Homo sapiens: one gene and its partner. The protein of the gene in region 2 interacts with the protein of the main gene of each other region in a biochemical or structural test. Each region holds a gene or a part of one and is shown on either strand. Other genes may lie near its edges.

What was found.
Region 1: the proteins of PEBP1 (region 2) and BRAF form a complex in vitro, tested with the Homo sapiens proteins (one study listed by BioGRID).

What each region holds. Positions count from the first base shown.
Region 1 is NC_000007.14:140,736,110-140,739,929, forward strand, and holds part of BRAF (serine/threonine-protein kinase B-raf), read right to left. Parts: coding exon 3,703-3,820; intron 1-3,702. UniProt on the Homo sapiens protein: Protein kinase involved in the transduction of mitogenic signals from the cell membrane to the nucleus. Phosphorylates MAP2K1, and thereby activates the MAP kinase signal transduction pathway. Phosphorylates PFKFB2.
Region 2 is NC_000012.12:118,142,486-118,146,286, reverse strand, and holds the end of PEBP1 (phosphatidylethanolamine-binding protein 1), read right to left. Parts: intron 1,702-3,801; coding exon 1,484-1,701; 3' UTR 703-1,483; downstream 1-702.

The DNA of each region.
Region 1 (3,820 bases), on a different chromosome or scaffold from region 2:
GTCCAGGCTGGAGTGCAGTGGCGCGATCTCAGCTCACTGCAACCTCCGCCTCCCAGGTTCAAGCGATTCTCCTGCCTCAGCCTCCCGAGTAGCTGGGATCACAGGCGTGTGCCACCACGCCCGGATAATTTTGTATTTTTAGTAGAGACGGGTATCACCATTTTGCCCAGGCTGGTCTCGAACTCCTAACCTCAACTGATCCACCCACCTTGGCCTCCCAAAGTGCTGGGATTACAGGTGTGAGTCACTGCGCCTGGCCTCTTCAGTACCTTTTTTTATGTATAAAAATACATACATGAAAACAAGGCCCACCTGAACACCACTTTTTTTTTTTGGAGATGGAATTTCACTCTTGTTGCCCAGGCTGGAGTGCAATGGTGCGATCTCGGCTCACCGCAACCTCCGCCTCCTGGGTTCAAATGATTTTCCTGCCTCAGCCTCCCGAGTAGCTGGGATTACAGGCATGTGCCACCACGCCTGGCTAATTTTGTATTCTTAGTAGAGTCAGAGTTTCTCCATGTTGGTCAGGCTGGTTTCGAACTCCCAACCTCAGGTGATCCGCCTGCCTCGGCCTCCCAAAGTGCTGGGATTACAGGCGTGAGCCACCGTGCCTGGCCTCTGTTTAACCTTTTAAAGTGGTTATCAGGCTGGGCACTGGGGCTCACGCCTGTAATCCCAGCACTTTGGGAGGCTGAGGCGAGAGGATCGCTTGAGGCCAGGAGTTCAAGACCAGCCAGGGCAACATAGTGAGAATCTATCTCTACAACCACCACCACCACCACCACAAGAAATTAGCTGGGTGTGGTGATAGGCACCTGCAATCCCAGCTACTTAGGAGGCTGAGGTGAGAGGATCGCTTGAGCCCAGGAGTTTGAGGCTGCAGTGGGCTATGATCATATTACTGCACTCCAGCCTGGGCAACAGAACAGGCCCAGCCTATAAAAAAAAAAAATGAGGTATCATACTACATTTTGTTTTCTGTCTTGTTTTCTTTTTCTCTCACCAATATCCATGTCATCAATACAAAACTAACTTAATCTTAATGTCTTTTTCTTATTATAGTAAACATTCTTATATATATCTGAATACTTATGAAATAGGTTACATAGCACAGATTTTTAGAAGTATTTTGAATTTATGGATTCTACCAAGGTCTTCCAAAATGCTGCCTTCCACCAAACCTTTAAAATTTTACATAGAATGCTCCTCCTCACTTCCCAACATTGTTCCCAGTGCTGGATATTACCAACCTGAGAGGCGAAATTAAAATATATTTCACTGTTGTGTCTTTGCATTTTACTGACTGCCATGGAAATATTTACACCTTTTCCTAAGTTCATTCACCATTTGTATTTATTATGTGAATCACCTGTTCATATTCCCTTTGCCCATTTTCTATTGTTTGTTACTTATTGATTTGGAGGAGTCCTTTGTATATTATAAACATTTACTTTTTGTTATATATGCTACAATTATTCTTTTTATCTTTCAATGTTATTTTTCTATATAGAAGTTTAAAAATTTTTAATGTACTCACATCTGCTAATTTTTTCCTTCTGAATTTTGTCTATTAAGAAAGCCTTTCCTACCTCAAAACTATAAAAATGATTTCATATTTTATAAAACATATAGATCTTCAGCCATCTAAAATTTATGTGGCATATAACAGTATGGTGTGAAAAGATATCCTGTAACAAAAATTTCAAAATAACACTTTAAAGGGATAGCCTCCAATAATCTGGAAAGTTCACATATGCACTTCAGTTTTTGAAACCATGTAATTAATGAAATGTTATATTTAGAAGTATGGAGCTAAGCATTTTGCCCCTTTTAATATCATTTAAAAAGTGGGCCTAAGGATGTACTTTGCATTATTAATGTCAATAAACATTCTAAGTAAGAACCCGAGCACCATGACGTGAAAAGAGAACATGGGACAGGGTCATGCTGAAGCTGCTCAGCAGCACTTGTCTCTCACCAGGACAGTCTCAACCCAGAGGTTTCCTGACTTAGAGAAACAAATAAAAAAATAAAAAGAAAAAATAAAAACTCTTCCTCAAAGGAACAGTAACTTTGAAACCTGATAAATGAAACTTATATCTACCCAGCCAACCACTTAGCTTTCCCTTTCTTTTCTTAGGCAACACCCTGACAGACTTGTTAAAACCATCAATTTTATCTTCTTTCATTCTTTAGAGAAGAATAACATTTTTTAGATTTAAAAATAAAGGATGAGTGAATCTAATTCCTGTAACATTGACTTCTGTCTGAGTTACTCAGCTAGGACTGGGCATTCAAAGGCCTAAGAGTTCATACATGAACACTCCAGTAATTATGGTAGCAGGGTTACTATGGGAAATAGCACTTCCCACTTGAAACTGTACTGATTCATCAAGGCATATTTATCCAGTGCTATCAGGAGCTCCCTAAGTATCAGAAAACATTGCATTTATATTATAATATCTACTACAGCTAAACTCTGTAAGCTAGTTGAGGTATTTAGATATTTTTGTTTTGTTTTGTTTTAAACAGAGTCTCATTCTGTTGCCCTGGCTGGAATGCAGTGGTGTCATCTCAGCTCATTACAATCTCCACCTCCTGGGTTCAAGCGATTCTCATGTCTCAGCCTCCTGAGTGGCTGGGATTACAGGCTCCTGCCACTATGCCCAGCTAATTTTTGTATTTTTAGTAGAGACGGTTTTCACCATGTTGGCCAGGCTGGTCTCGAACTCCTGACCTCAACTGATCTGCCTGCCTTGGCCTCCCAAAGTGTTGAGATTTGTAAGCCACGACACCTGGCCTTAGTTACAGTTCTTTTTGAAATTTGTTAACTTAAGGCTTTATCCTTCCAATATGGAAAAAAAAAAAAAAAAGCAGTGAGTTATCAAGAATTAGGTAAAGGCAGGCTGAGCTGACAAATGCCTTACTGCCTTTTCCTTTTTCTGCATCAGGCAGAAATGCCCCTCAAAAAGACCCAGTATTAAAGGAAAGCTTGAATCTGTTTACCACCAAGAAGAAATAAAGCAGTGGTTCACAAAATGTGGTCCGTGGACCACCAGGGGATCCACGAGGTCAAAACTATTTTTGTAATAACAATAAGATATCATTTGCCTTTTTTACTGTCATTATTTTACAAGCGTTAAGTAGAGTTTTTAGGGGTGACATGATGTGAGATATTGCAATGTGAGTGCAAAAGCGGAGAATCCAGCTGTCTTCTTTTTGCAAAGGGATTTGCAAAAAAAGTAAAACAATACAACTCCTCACTAATTTTTTTCTCTTAGATAATAGAACTGTTTTTTTCTAAATATTATTTAACATATTGGTTTACTATGTTTAATTCATTAATATTTTAAAAAATAGTTTTAATTTCTAATAAGGAATTAAAACTTATATAAACAAAAGCTCTTTGTGGGGGGGGGGGTCTTCGATAATTTTTAAATGTGTAAAAGAGTTCAAAGACTGAGAAGTCTGAGAACTGATGGACAAATGCAAAGTCTTTCTGAATATTTTGTATTAGGACCCAAAATTTCTAGGTGTGCCACTGCTCAACCCTCATGAAGCCATCTTAATGTGTTTTCTTGTCTGGAGTCTGCACATAGAATCCAAACTCATGAAATACACACTGTGTGCCCAAAAAAGTGCTCAGAAATCTGTCTATGAATGTTAGTCTGTTCTTTTGGATAGCATGAAGCTTTTACTTACTTGGGGAAAGAGTGGTCTCTCATCTCTTTTCTTTTTGAGGCACTCTGCCATTAATCTCTTCATGGCTTTTGGACAGTTACTCCGTACCTTACTGAGATCTGGAGACAGGTATCCTCGT
Region 2 (3,801 bases):
CAGGGTGAGACTCCATCTCAAAAAAATTAAAAAAAGAAAAAAAGAAAACTTACATCTACCTTATGTGCTTCCAGCAAGGCAACATTTCCAAGTTTTTTCAGAGAAAAAAGTACTGCAGTGAAAGATGGGGAAGGGCTAGTCATTAGCACCTGTCAGGCCTGATTCAGGACCCCCCCCTTTGCATCGCAGAGACCAAATCACAGTGATTTGCACCTTCAAACACCTCCTTTCCTTTCTTTCGGTACATCAGATGGCATGAGACCGTGACCTTCTCACCCTCCTACCCTGCGCACCTCTTTGGTACTGAGCCTCTGTGGATAACACATCAGAACGGGAAGTGCAGGCTACTTCTTAGGCATTGTTACGGTGTCCGCGCCAGACTTCACCAAGGGGGAAGGTTTTCAGCCATCTTCTTTAGAACATCCTTCTTGGGTCAAAAGGACCACTTGAAGCAAAGGTGCTTTTTGGGCAATAAGACTCGGCCTCACATTTTATGATTTTTTTTTTAGAAACCTCAAATCTGAACTGTTTGCTCCTGCTGTGGGTTAATGGCACATGTAGAGGCACAGACCCTCCATATGGCCCCTAGAACAAGTCCCAGCTGTTACTTGCTGGTCACGGAGACGACTCACCCTGAGACTTGACTTCTCACACTTATGAAACCTATACCCAATAGAACAAAACATCCGGGGACTCAGTTCCTTCATTCAGGTTTCTATTTTTATTCAACTACAAGCAAACAGCACAATTAATGCAACATTCAGCAACTCCAGACCAGCTTTTCTTACCCCCATGAAGAACGATCAATTTAAAAAACACAGATCTCAGGTTTCCTCCCAAGCTGTCAGCGAGCGCTGCTACCGGTCTAGATTGCCATGTCCCAACAACAGCAAAGCCACCCTCCCTCCTGCTTCTTCCAGGATTGCTCTTTAAAGGGACCAGAGTGACATACTGATGCCTACTGAGGCATCTGAGATGCACTGTGTTGGAGGTTAGCCTCAATGCCAGCCTCTGGTTGTCTAGGTGAGTGACATCACCATAAAATCACATTGTGTACCATTCTGGACTCAGGATCACAAAGGCAGAGGCAACCAATCTTTTTTTTTTTTTTTTTTTTTAAACCTCCCTTAAAGATTCTTTGATGCTTTGCTCTATCACTGTAGACCTGGTCTTTTTCCCCCCAGTTTTTTCTTTTTTACATTCTGGGTTGCTATTTTCAGATTAATAATTTGATGACCCCATCACAGTACCAAAATACCCCCCAAAATGAAGTTCAAATTTGATCAAAACATAAATCAGAGTGAGTGAGTAAAATTATAAAGGCCAGGCAGCAGGAAAAGTCACCCTCAACTACCATCTGACTGGTCAGGTCTCACCCATGCCAAGGGGGGCAGGAAGAGGAGAAATCTATTATACATGCAACACTGAACTGGGGAACATGGCTTGGGGCCTCCAGGACAGTTCAGGTCCCCAAGCTAACCCCCTACTTCCCAGACAGCTGCTCGTACAGTTTGGGCACATAGTCATCCCACTCGGCCTGGTAACACGTGCCAGCCACCGGGGCCCTGAGCTCATACTTTTTACGGAAGGACGCCACCTTGAATTTGCCACGGTGGTCTCCAGATCGGTTGCTGAGGATGGGCTCGTCACACTTTAGCGGCCTGTCCTGCTCGTAAACCAGCCAGACATAGCGGTGGAGGCCTGTGGGGAGAGGCAGAGGGAAGATGTACACACAGCCCAGCACTTGAGATGGGGACATCATCCATTTTTATCGAATGTTTCAACATGGAGGCACCCAGACCACACCATTTACAAGGAGGACACCGAGGGTCCAGACAGGTATTTGGTGCAAATTAACATTTAATGGCAATTAACACATTAATGGCAAAAACCGCAATTACTTTTGCATCAACCTAATAGAATGTGTTAGGCCCCTGCTGTAACTGGTGTCAAGCCCAAGCCCTTAGTTCCAGCCTCTCCTGGCCTGTGGGATCTGGCCTCTGCACCCCCTTATCCTCGCCTCCCAACGAGCCTCTGTGCTCTTCATTCATCCCACTTCAGGCTCCCGGACCTTCTCAAGTCACCACCCACCACCCCCCATCAGAACACCCATTTCACTTCTGTCAGGTAGGAGCAACCAATTAAGGACAAAGCAAATCAATGACCCGGGCCCACCATACCACAGTCGAGCCTCTAGGATAAAGGAGAACATTTTCTTTCTACCTCCAAAATTTACTTGCTTAGAAAACTGGAGGACTACTTCGAAGTGACCCAACCTCACTTTAACTAAGCAGCTTTCTACAAGCTTCAATGATGTACTGGATGCAAATAGGTACCATGAGCTCTTATTTTTTTAAAAAGTGGGTTTTTTTTTTTTTTTTGAGACGGAGTCTCACTCTGTTGCCTAGGCGTGGAGTGCAGTGGCATGATCTCGGCTCACTACAACCTCAGCCTCCTGGGTTCAAGCAATTCTCCTGCCTCAGCCTCCTGAGTAGCTAGGATTACAGGTACGTGCCACCACGCCCAGTTATGTTTTGTTTTGTTTTGTTTTTGTATTTTTAGTAGAGACCAGGTTTCACCATGTTGGCAAAACTCCTGACCTCAAGTGATCCACCCATCTCGCCCTCCCAAAGTGCTGGGATTACAGCTGTGAGCCACTGCACCCGGCCAGAAACAAAGTTATTTTTTAAAAAGTTGTTTAAATATTTGCACACCCATGTTCAATGCAGCAGTATTCACAATAGCCAAGAAGCAGAAGCAACCCGACTGTCCACTGATGGATGAAAAGATGATCAGAATGTGGTTTATACACACAACAGAATATTATCCAGCCTTTTATTTTTTCTTTACTCCCCTGTGTTACTCTAGGACTATTCAGCCTTAAAAAGAAATTCAGACACATGCTACACCAGAGAACCTTGAGAACATTACATTAGTGAAATTAGCCAGTCGCAAGACAAATACTGTACAATTCCACGAGGTATCTAAAGTAGACAAACACTGCAACAGAAAGTGGAATGGTGGCTGCCAGGGCTAGGGGAAGGGAAATGGGGAGCTGTTGGTCAATGGGGACAGGGTTTCTGTTGGGGAAGATGAAAAATCTAGAGATCTGTTTCACAACAATGTGAATGTAGTGGTCGGGCATGGTAGCTCACATTTATAATCCCAGGACTTTGGGAGGCCAAGGTGGGAGGGTCACCTGAGCCCAGGAGGAATTTGAGACCAGCTTGGGCAATATGGCGAAACCCCGTCTCTACTAGAAATACAAAAATTTGCTGGATGTGGTAGGTAGCCTGTGCCTGTAGTCCCAGCTTCTCGGGAGCCTGAGGTAGGAGGGTTGCTTGAGCCCAGGAGGTGAGCTGAGCCCTGCAGTGAGCTGAAAACGTGCCACTGTGCTCCAGCCTAGGGGACAGAGTAAGACCCTATCTCAAAAAAAAAAAAAAAAAAAAAAAAAAAAAAAGTGAATGTAGTTAACGCTACTGTAGTGTACACTTAAAAATGGTTAAGATGGAGGGGGCGCAGTGGCTCACACCTGTAATCCCAGCACTTTGAGAGGCTAAGGCAGGTGGATCACTTGAGGTCAGGAATTTGAGACCAGCTTGGCCAAGATGGTGAAACCCCGTCTCTACTAAAAATATAAAAATTAGCCAGACATGGTGGCACGTGTCTGTAATCCTAGCTACCCAGGAGGCTGAGGTGGGAGGATCACTTGAACCTGGGAGGTGGAGGCTGAAGTGAGCTGAGATCACACCACTGCACTCCAGCCTCAAAAAAAGAGTTAAGATGGTAAATTTTGCCAGG